2 linked regions of the Homo sapiens genome follow. The protein of the gene in region 2 interacts with the protein of the main gene of each other region in a biochemical or structural test. Each region holds a gene or a part of one and is shown on either strand. Other genes may lie near its edges.

Region 1 (7,032 bases), on a different chromosome or scaffold from region 2:
GCAACTGCGACAGAAAAGCCCGCTGGTGCAGCAACCAGCACACGCAGGTCACTCAGTAACACAAGGATTCCATGTCCACTGGGAACGGGCGGCACCCACAGCCCAAGCCTGGGCACAGCTGAGGACCAGCACACGGGACACCTGTCACCTGGGCAGGGCTGAGGACTCATGCACACCACACCTATCACCTGGGCAGGGCAGAGGACCCACACACAGCACACCTGTCACCTGGGCAGGGCTGAGGACCCGCGCACACCATACCTGTCACCTGGACAGGGCTGAGGATCAGCACACAGCACACCTGTCACCTGGGCAGGGCTGAGGATCAGCACACAGCACACCTGTCACCTGGGCAGGGCTGAGGACCCACACGCATCACGCCTGACACCTGTGTATAGCTGAGGACGCGTGCACAGCACACCTGTCACCTGGGCAGGGTGAGGACCCACACACAGGACACCTGCCACCTGGACAGGGCTGAGGACCCACGTACACCACACCTGTCACCTGGGCACGGCTGAGGACCCGTGTACACCACACCTGTCACCTGGCTGGGTGAGGACCTGCACACAGCACACCTGTCACCTGGGCACGGCTGAGGACCCGCGCACACCACACCTATCACCTGGGCAGGGCTGAGGACCCACGTACACCACACCTGTCACCTGGGCACGGCTGAGGACCCGTGTACACCACACCTGTCACCTGGGTGGGTGAGGACCTGCACACAGCACAACTGTCACCTGGGCAGGGTGAGGACCCACACACAGCACAACTGTCACCTGGGCAGGGTGAGGACCCACACACAGCACACCTGTCACCTGGGCACGGCTGAGGACCCGCACACACCACACCTGTCACCTGGACAGGGCTGAGGATCAGCACACAGCACACCTGTCACCTGGGCAGGGCTGAGGACCCACACGCATCACGCCTGACACCTGTGTATAGCTGAGGACGCGTGCACAGCACACCTGTCACCTGGGCACGGCTGAGGACCCGCGCACACCACACCTATCACCTGGGCAGGGCTGAGGACCCACGTACACCACACCTGTCACCTGGGCACAGCTGAGGACCCGTGTACACCACACCTGTCACCTGGGTGGGTGAGGACCTGCACACAGCACAACTGTCACCTGGGCAGGGTGAGGACCCACACACAGCACACCTGTCACCTGGGCACGGCTGAGGACCCGCACACACCACACCTGTCACCTGGGCAGGGTGAGGACCCACACACAGCACACCTGTCACCTGGGCACGGCTGAGGACCCGCGCACACCACACCTGTCACCTGGACAGGGCTGAGGATCAGCACACAGCACACCTGTCACCTGGGCAGGGCTGAGGACCCGCACACACACCTGTCACCTGGGCAGGGTGAGGACCCACACACAGCACACCTGTCACCTGGGCAGGGCTGAGGACCTGCGCACACCACACCTGTCACCTGGACAGGGCTGAGGACCCACACGCATCACGCCTGACACCTGTGTATAGCTGAGGACGCGTGCACAGCACACCTGTCACCTGGACAGGGCTGAGGATCAGCACACAGCACACCTGTCACCTGGGCAGGGTGAGGACCCACACACAGCACACCTGTCACCTGGGCAGGGCTGAGGACCCACACACAGCACACCTGTCACCTGGGCAGGGCTGAGGACCCGCGCACACCACACCTGTCACCTGGGCAGGGCTGAGGACCCACACGCATCACGCCTGACACCTGTGTATAGCTGAGGACGCGTGCACAGCACACCTGTCACCTGGGCAGGGCTGAGAACCAGCACACAGCACGCCTGTCACCTGGGCAGGGCTGAGGACCAGCACACAGCACACCTGTCACCTGGGCAGGGCTGAGGACCCGTGCACACCACAACTGTCTCTTGGGCACAGCTGAAGACCAGCACACACCACACCTGTCACCTGGGCAGGGCTGAAGACCCACAGACACCACAACTGTCTCCTGGGCAGGGCTGAGGACCAGCATATGCCACACCTGTCACCTGGGCAGGAGGGGAGGGCCAGGGATGTGTTGGCAATGCTGGATTCTGGGCTGACCCATTCAGGTTTCTGACCCTCTCCTGCTTCCCCATTCACTGGAGCGGATCACACTGTCTCTTTTCCTCAGACCCCAGTGACGCGATGTTAATGAACAGAAGACCAGGGTGCACAGGGCAAGCACCTGTGTTAAAAGATACTGTATCCCAAAGCCACAGGGGACACACAAGGTTTTCATTCATCAGACCAGAATCCCTTAGAAACTGGACCATAGAAAAACAGGATTCATGGCCAGGCGCGGTGGCTCACGCCTGGAATCCCAGCACTCTGGGAGGCCAAGGCGGGCGGATCACCTGAGGTCGGGAGTTCAAGACCAGCCTGAGCAACATGAAGAAACCCCGTCTCTACTAAAAATACAAAAAATTAGCAGGGTATGGTGGCGCATGCCTGTAATCCCAGCTACTTGGGAGGCTGAGGTCAGAGAATCGCTTGAACCCGGGAGACAGAGGTTGTGGTGAGCCAAGATCGTGCCATTGCACTCCAGCCTGGGCAACAAGAACGAAACTCCGTCTCGAAACAAACAAACAAACAGGATTCACATAAAAGACTAACGGGAAGAGGCAGATATAACTCTTCATCCTTGAGTCTCAAAATTACCTGCAGCACATGTGAATAGTGCCCATGACCTGTGCGACAACTTAAAAGCCATAGTCCCTGTCCTCACAGGAGCCCTGAAGCGGAGTCGGGATGCTGCGGGAATCTCAGCCAGTCGGGAAAAAGGTACAAAGGGCGGATGCTTTTCCAGGCTTGGGCTACACACAAAGATACAGAGAGCAGTGCATGGCCAGTACCCGAACAACCAGAATCATCTGAGTAAGACACCTGGGGGATGAGGGGTCACCTAATTCAGCCTCTAATTCAGCCAACGCTGACATCTGCCCTTCCCCTCGCAGATCCATCCCCACACGTAGTCTAAGCCACCTGCTGCTACCAGTCCTCCTCTCTAAGCAAAACTTGACAAATCTAGTCTCTTATGACAAACAGCAGAAAGCCACACTGTAAGTCAAGCTAAATATCAACTGCAAATCTGGATTTTCTAATTGTTCTACAACAAAGTATTTTTTAATGTAAATACCAAGAGTGAAAAGTTTTTAACATCCCCTAAAGAGCACCTGATACTTCTACTGCAAATCGAGCTGTGCACCAAAGGTGAGGTTTCCAATTCTTACACAACGAACTCCAGAGATTTCTTCCAAATACCAAAAGTAAAGAGCTAACAAAGAGCTGATTATGTAAGAAAAAAGATGTCCTTTTTTATTCTTTGAATTTTATACCAGATGTTCCTATAATACCTCTTTTAAAGCATGTTTTAGGGGCAAAACTTTTTTCTTTTTTTTTTTTTTTGAGATGAAGTCTTGCTCTTGTCACCCAGGCTGGAGTGCAATGGCGTGATCTCGGCTCACTGCAACCTCCGCCTCCCGGGTTCAAGCGATTCTCCTTCTCAGCCTCGAGAGTAGCTGGGATTACAGGCGCCCGCCACCACGCCCAGCTAATTTCTGTATGTTTAGTAGAGACAGGGTTTTGCCATGTTGGCCAGACTGGTCTCGAACTCCTGACCTCAGGTGATCCACCCGCCTTGGCCTCCGGGATTACAGGCATGAGCCACCGTGCCCAGCAGGGGCAAAACTTTTAATTAACCTATAATTTTCTTTTTCTTTTTTTTTTTTTTTTTTTTTGAGACAGAGTCTCGCTCTGTCGCCCAGGCTGGAGTGCAGTGGCGTGATCTCTGCTCACTGCAAGCTCCGCCTCCCGAGTTCACGCCATTCTCCTAACTCAGCCTCCCCAGTAGCTGGGACTACAGGCGCCCACCACCATGCCTGGCTAATTTTTTGTATTTTTAGTGGAGAAGGGGTTTCACCCTCTTAGCCAGGATGGTCTCAATCTCCTGACCTTGTGATCCACCTGCCTCGGCCTCCCAAAGTGCTGGGATTACAGGCGTGAGCCACTGCGCCCGGCCCAACCTATAATTTTCTAATTTTTAATATCCCTTCAGAGTTTCTCTAACCTCATCCTATGTAGAAAAAAAAAATCCTGAAATATGAAAAGACTCTTGTAAAAACAAGCACGTCATCATAGATTTCTTCAACACTTAAACCTGAGGGGGCTAAACTGACAACCTTCTTAACCTCAAATGTAAAGTTGTTTCTTTATGAGGACAAAAGAAGGCCTGAGTCGCTGAATCCTGTTCCCAGAACTCACTCCTTCAAGCACTGAAGGAAACAGCAGTTTGTTGCTGCATCAGGTTCACCTCTTCAGGCCTGAACTTCACCATCCAGGTCTGTAAAAGGACACCTGGTGGTAGACCCTTAGAGGAGCTCATTGGTCCCCTCTTGGCATTAGCAGAGCCTCGTGACAGCATCACTCAAACGCCTCCATGGTGGGACGCACACAGTTCTCTTGGTCCCCAGCTCTCAATTTCAGGATTTCCCCATAAACTCACAGGACACAAACAGGCACCACAGAACGGCTTTCACAACCAAGGCACGTGAATACCGGGCAGTGACGTCCACAGCCACGTTCTCTGCACAGGGAGCTGACCAGGTCCAAGTGCCCGCACAGCCCAAGAGCGAGTTCAGATGCCCTGCATCTTTACCAATGGCAGGAGGAGCTTGGAGAGGCGAACGGGACCCCAGAAACAGCCCCACACGGGCTACATCCCGAAGTCTTACAGCAAAAGCATCCCTGTAATGTTTGATGAATTCATCATCTGCCTGCCTTCCCACTTACAAACTTTCATGACACTGGACAATCGTGTGTGACGACAGGATGTTCCGAGGTAGGGAGGGGAGAGGCAGAGCTCTGCCTGATCCCACCAAGGGTCATGCTGCCTGGGCAGGCAGGAAACTTGGCCGCAGGCTGAGATGCCAGTGCCAAGCCACACTCCCTCACCCAAGGGCCCTGCCAGCCCAGCTCTAGAACAACTTGAGCCCCTGCAGCTGGACTGACTCGTGACAAGGGTCTGTCCGACTCTAAGGAGGTGCCAAAGCACCTTCCAAGACTGAATCTGAGGACGGTTCCGAGCACCACCGGTACCTGCAACGGGAGCCCACAGATCTGCGGGTCAGAGCCACCCTGTTCAGGAACCAGAGGACAGCCTCCCTAGGCCCTGAGGCGGAGGGCCTGAGATGTTTCGAGGACAGTTCAGAAACTCAAAGAGTCTGTACGGACCTCCCAGGGTGTCTCCAAACTTAAGACAGGACTGCACCTGAGGCTATCACAGACCGGGTGGGCCAGGCATGGAAACAGACAGTCCCCACAGCAAGGAAATCCTCCCCATATTGCCAGGAGCAGCCCATAATCTTGATCATAAATTTCTGTAAGTGATCCATGCTATGCCAGCGCTCCTGCTGGGCAAGACCAGGCCTCAGGTTCCCGGAGCCAGCCAGGTGGCCGTATGGCAGCTGACTCCTGTTCTCCACATTCTCCCACTTAACAGAGTATAAACACAAATATTCCATTTGAATTTACCATTTTAATTCAAATAAGTGCAATAAAATAAAAAGTCCCTGAGCAAGACAACAGAAACCTAATCCTTCTCACCATTTCTCCAGCTGGGCCCACTCAAGGACCATCAAAGGCAGCCACCTTCTAGGCTGTTTCCTCCTTCTGTGACCCTACATCACCCACTCCAGCACCGCCACTCACTCTCCACCCACAACACCATCACCACACTCACTCTCCTCCAGTCTACCACCATCACCACTCACTGTCCACCCACAACACTACCATCACTCACTCTCCACCCACAACACCATCACCACACTCACTCTACCAACTCCACCATCACCACTCACTCTCCACCTACACCACCATCACCACTCTCTCTCCCCCAGTCCTACCACCACTCACTCTCCATCCAATCTACCATCACCACTCACTGTCCCCGAGTCTACCACACTCACTCTCCGTCCAATCTACCATCACCACTCACTCTCCACCACTCCAGCACCACCACTCACTCTCCATCAAGTCCACCACCACTCACTCTCTAACTACTACACCATCACTGATCACTCTCCTCACTGCTCCACAGTCATTTCCTACCCACTCTGCAAACTTTTCAGAGTACCTCTCTCCTCCCTCGTGTGTAGCTCCTTGCCATATAGACCTTCACACCCACTGCCTGTCAACTGCTGTTCAAAGATGACACCCCCAGAGGACTGACCTCATCCTCTTCTTTCTGCCCCTCACTCACATGGAGCCATTTGTGGCCTTTTCCCACCCGCTTGTCTCCCTGTGCCCTACTTGAGGTTGGAAGCTCCGGAGTTGTTTTTCTCTTGTGTTCTCTCCAGAACCTTCCAGCCTCAGGTCTTGGATGTCCTTGTTTCTCCTCCTCCATGGTGACTACCAGGGCCTAGCTCCAGCTCCCTGCATCCTGTGGCCCCTCATGGCCCTCTACAGAGGCCCCAGGGCACTTAGAAGCTGGAGGCCTGCCTCCTTCAACCCAAGTGGCACAGCTTTCCCCCAGCATAAAGGCTTTTGACATACACCTGTGGTTTTACTGCAGTACCAGTGCTTTTAAAAACCTAACTGGTGGGCTGGGCACAGCGGCTCACGCCTGTAATCCCAGCACTTTGGGAGGCCGAGGTGGGTGGATCCCCTGAGGTCAGGAGTTCAAGACAAGCCTGGCCAACATGGTGAAACCCCGTGTCTACTAACAAAAAATTAGCTGGGTGTGGTGGCGCGCCTGTAATCCCAGCTATTTGGGAGGCTGAGGAGAAGAACTGCTTGAACCCAGGAGGCCAAGGTCACAGTGAGCTGAGGTCGCGCCATTGCACTCTAGCCTGGGCAACAAGCAAAACTCCGTCTCAAAAAACAAAAACAAAACACCTAACTGGTTATCGATGTTCCCTTCTGCAAAAGCTGCCAACATCATCTTTTCAAAACTCAAATGTCACACCTCTACTTAAAAGAGTTAGCTAGGCCGGGCGCGGTGGCTCACGCCTGTAAGGCGGGTGGATTGTT
Region 2 (4,247 bases):
AGCTCGGGGGGTGACGGGGGCGGGTGGCTGGGGCAGCGCTGCCGTGTGCAGGGGCCGAGCCCTGCGGGGCCGTGAGCCGGCCCTGCCTTCTGCTTCCTTCCCAGATGTAGCCGCCTGTCCCGGGAGCCTGGACTGTGCCCTGAAGAGGCGGGCAAGGTGTCCTCCTGGTGCACATGCCTGTGGGCCCTGCCTTCAGCCCTTCCAGGAGGACCAGCAAGGGCTCTGTGTGCCCAGGATGCGCCGGCCTCCAGGTACGAGAGCAAAGGGGGAAGTCGATGGGGGGATGTCCCTGCATGAACCTCTCCCTGTAAGAAGCGGCCGGCTGGGCGCGGTGGCTCATGCCTGTAATCCCAGCACTGTGGGAGGCCCAGGCTGTTGGATCTCATGAGGTCAGGAGTTCAAGACCAGCCTGGCCAACATGGTGAAACCCCGTCTCTACTAAAAATACAAAGTAGCCGGGTGTGGTGGCACACACCTGTAGTCCCAGCTACTCAGGAGGCTGAGGCAGGAGAATTGCTTTAACCCGGGAGGCGGAGCTTGCAGTGAGCCGATTCACCACTGCACTCCAGCCTGGGCGACAGTGCGAGACTCTGTCTCAAAAAAAAAAAAAAAAAAAAAGAAGGCCGGGAGCAGTGGCTCACGCCTGTAATCCCAGCACTTTGGGAGGCCGAGGCGGGCACATCATAAGGTCAGGAGATCGAGACCATCCTGGCTAACACGGTGAAACCCCATCTGTACTAAAAATACAAAAACAAAATTAGCCGGGCGTGGCGGCGGGCGCCTGTAGTCCCAGCTACTCGGGAAGCTAAGGCAGGAGAATGGCGTGAACCCGGGAGGCAGAGCTTGCAGTGAGCCGAGATCGCGCCACTGCACTCCAGCCTGGGCGGCAGAGCGAGACTCCGCCTCAAAAAAAAAAAAGCAGCAGCCTGCAGCCTCAATGCCCAGGCCTGTGCCAGGTGGTCTTGGGGCCCCTGGACCTTGTGGGGTGTTGGGTCCAAGGCCTGGGAGATCCTCATTCACTCTCCACGAAGCCTCCCATCCTTTCCAAATGGAGGTGGGCCCAGGCCTGGGGCAGTCAGGCCCTCCCAGGAGAAGGGCTGCACGATGTGAAATGCTGGGATGGCCACGGGAGAGGAAGGGCCCATTCTCCCCGGGCCTGGGCTCTGCAGGGTCTGCCCAGAAGCCCTCCAGGCCCCCACTTCCCCGTCCCCAGGCAGCTTGCTCTTTTCCACCACTCACTGTCCTGTCCGCCTGTTGGCAAATGTTGAAGGGTGCCAGCACTGGCTGGGTGCTGGGGATGCCCCGCTCGCCAGCCTGAGCCGCATCTGTCGGGATGGCCAGTCACTGAGTGACTTCAGGTGTGGTGAGGGCTTTGCTCAGAGGTGCTGGGGGTGGGAGCAGCAGCGGCTTCCTGGAGGAGGTGTTGAGAGGAGCACCGAGAAGTGGCTGTAAGGGTCTGTGTGGATGCACCTCCTGCCAACCTGGGAGCGTCCACCCAGACTGTGCAGCCCACAGTGGGTACCGGTGGAGCCCTGCCACCAGCCCCACCCCTGACAGCTGCCCCCGTTCTCCCAATGACCTGGGGAGGGGTCCCGGGTGCTTGGCTTCCTTCGGCTTCCCCCCACTCCTTGGGGAGTCCCTGCCCCTCTACCCGAGAAGGTGCTTGGAGGTGGGGAAGCAGAAGGGGCTGTGCTGGCCAGCCCTTTATGGACATGGGTTGGGGCGAGAGACCCCACTCCTTCCTCCCCGTGCCCGGTCTTTGGACGTTTCCCTAGCGCCTCCTCCCTTGCCCTGCCTCCACTTTCCGGGAAGCACTGCCCCTCACAGGAAGCGCCCGCGCTGTCACCATGGCAATCTGGGAGGGAGAGGGCCTCCAGGCGTGTACCCAGTCCTCAGGCTCCTGGGAGGAACCTGCCAGAAGCGGGGAGGCCGGGCCTGGGGCTACCTCCTGGACGGACCCCTCCACCTGATGGCCCCTCACCCTCCCCAGGCGGGGGCCGGCCCCAGCCCAGACTGGAAGATGAGATTGACTTCCTGGCCCAGGAGCTTGCCCGGAAGGAGTCTGGACACTCAACTCCGCCCCTACCCAAGGACCGACAGCGGCTCCCGGAGCCTGGTGAGACCCCCGCTTCCCCTGCCCCACGGCCCTGTCCCTAGCCCAGTGCTCTCATTCTAACCTGTCCTCTCTCGCAGCCACCCTGGGCTTCTCGGCACGGGGGCAGGGGCTGGAGCTGGGCCTCCCCTCCACTCCAGGAACCCCCACGCCCACGCCCCACACCTCCCTGGGCTCCCCTGTGTCATCCGACCCGGTGCACATGTCGCCCCTGGAGCCCCGGGGAGGGCAAGGCGACGGCCTCGCCCTTGGTAGGTCTTGGTCGGGGGTGGGCAGGGGCAGCAGGGCGCCCTGCAGAAGGCCGCCCTCACACGCCCCCTCCTGCAGTGCTGATCCTGGCGTTCTGTGTGGCCGGTGCAGCCGCCCTCTCCGTAGCCTCCCTCTGCTGGTGCAGGTGAGCCAGTGGCCGCGGGCAGGGCAGGGAGGGTGCCACACGCTCAGAGGTCTCAGGCCCCACTCCCCACAGGCTGCAGCGTGAGATCCGCCTGACTCAGAAGGCCGACTACGCCACTGCGAAGGCCCCTGGCTCACCTGCAGCTCCCCGGATCTCGGTGTGTGGCCCCCTTCAGCCCTGAGGCTCCCGCCCAACTCTGGCCGCCAACTGACCCTCGCCTCCTCCTTCCCACAGCCTGGGGACCAGCGGCTGGCACAGAGCGCGGAGATGTACCACTACCAGCACCAACGGCAACAGATGCTGTGCCTGGAGCGGTGAGTGGCCGCCCCGGCACTGCCACCCCCACCCACCCACCCCCCATCCCCACCTCCACCTCCATTTCCACCTCCCCTGGCCAACTTTACCCCAGGCCCTGCCACCCTCACCTGCACGCTAACCTTCACCTCCCCCGCCGCCCTGCACCCTCACCTCCCCTGGCCAACTTCACCCTGGGCTGTGCTCCCCTGCCACCCCAGGGCTGAGGTGGGCTGAGTGCCCACTTCCAGACTGGGCCACTGGCACCTCGAGGGCATGGGGAGGACCCAGCGATCCCCCCCCACCCAGGCATAAAGAGCCACCCAAGGAGCTGGACACGGCCTCCTCGGATGAGGAGAATGAGGACGGAGACTTCACGGTGTACGAGTGCCCGGGCCTGGCCCCGGTGAGTGCCTCAGGGTGCAGGGAGGGGCGAACCATCTCCTGGGGTTCCCTCCCAGCAAGTATCCCCCCAGCCCACCCACTGCCCAGCCTGACACCCACATTCGCAGACCGGGGAAATGGAGGTGCGCAACCCTCTGTTCGACCACGCCGCACTGTCCGCGCCCCTGCCGGCCCCCAGCTCACCGCCTGCACTGCCATGACCTGGAGGCAGACAGACGCCCACCTGCTCCCCGACCTCGAGGCCCCCGGGGAGGGGCAGGGCCTGGAGCTTCCCACTAAAAACATGTTTTGATGCTGTGTGCTTTTGGCTGGGCCTCGGGCTCCAGGCCCTGGGACCCCTTGCCAGGGAGACCCCCGAACCTTTGTGCCAGGACACCTCCTGGTCCCCTGCACCTCTCCTGTTCGGTTTAGACCCCCAAACTGGAGGGGGCATGGAGAACCGTAGAGCGCAGGAACGGGTGGGTAATTCTAGAGACAAAAGCCAATTAAAGTCCATTTCAGACCTGCGGCTTCTGCCTGTGTTGCCAGCTTGGGTTAATCTTCCACCGCCTCATCTCCCATTTGGGGCCCTGGTAGACGGACCCCTGAGTGGGGGGCCTGGGGTCTGCTCTTGCACCCCCAGAGGGAGGAGGCCTTTCTGTTCGCTCATTAGGAGGACCTTCCCATCCCGTGGAGCTGGAGGAGAGGCCACGGGATCATCCCCACCCTCCTCAGCCAGGCCTCACCCCTGCAGACCCTTCTACGCAGGTGGGAGAGGGGAAGGGTGTAGTGTAGGGCTGGGCCAGCCCAGGGTTGGCTCTGCGGCCCGGAAGACCCCATCCTGTGTGATAAAGAGGGCTGGAGCAGGTGATAGTCCACACGCACCTGGATGTGGGTGCCCACCACCTCCAGGCAGAAGGAAAACAATGCAGACATTGAGTCTGGGTTTCTCATGGGGACCACGGCCGCCAGGCCCTGCAGCACACGGAGGAGGGATGGCAGGCAGAGGTACCTGTGTGATACCAGCTATGCAGAGCCAGGTGGACCCAGGGGGCCAGGTGA

Evidence for each region.
Region 1: the proteins of NPDC1 (region 2) and TFDP1 form a complex in vitro, tested with the Homo sapiens proteins (one study listed by BioGRID).

Annotation. Positions count from the first base shown.
Region 1 is NC_000013.11:113,587,721-113,594,752, reverse strand, and holds part of TFDP1 (transcription factor Dp-1), read right to left. Parts: intron 1-7,032. UniProt on the Homo sapiens protein: Can stimulate E2F-dependent transcription.
Region 2 is NC_000009.12:137,038,931-137,043,177, reverse strand, and holds the end of NPDC1 (neural proliferation differentiation and control protein 1 precursor), read left to right. Parts: intron 1-104; coding exon 105-251; intron 252-1,990; coding exon 1,991-2,116; intron 2,117-2,193; coding exon 2,194-2,364; intron 2,365-2,440; coding exon 2,441-2,507; intron 2,508-2,579; coding exon 2,580-2,664; intron 2,665-2,741; coding exon 2,742-2,821; intron 2,822-3,110; coding exon 3,111-3,207; intron 3,208-3,313; coding exon 3,314-3,406; 3' UTR 3,407-3,715; downstream 3,716-4,247. UniProt on the Homo sapiens protein: Suppresses oncogenic transformation in neural and non-neural cells and down-regulates neural cell proliferation. Might be involved in transcriptional regulation.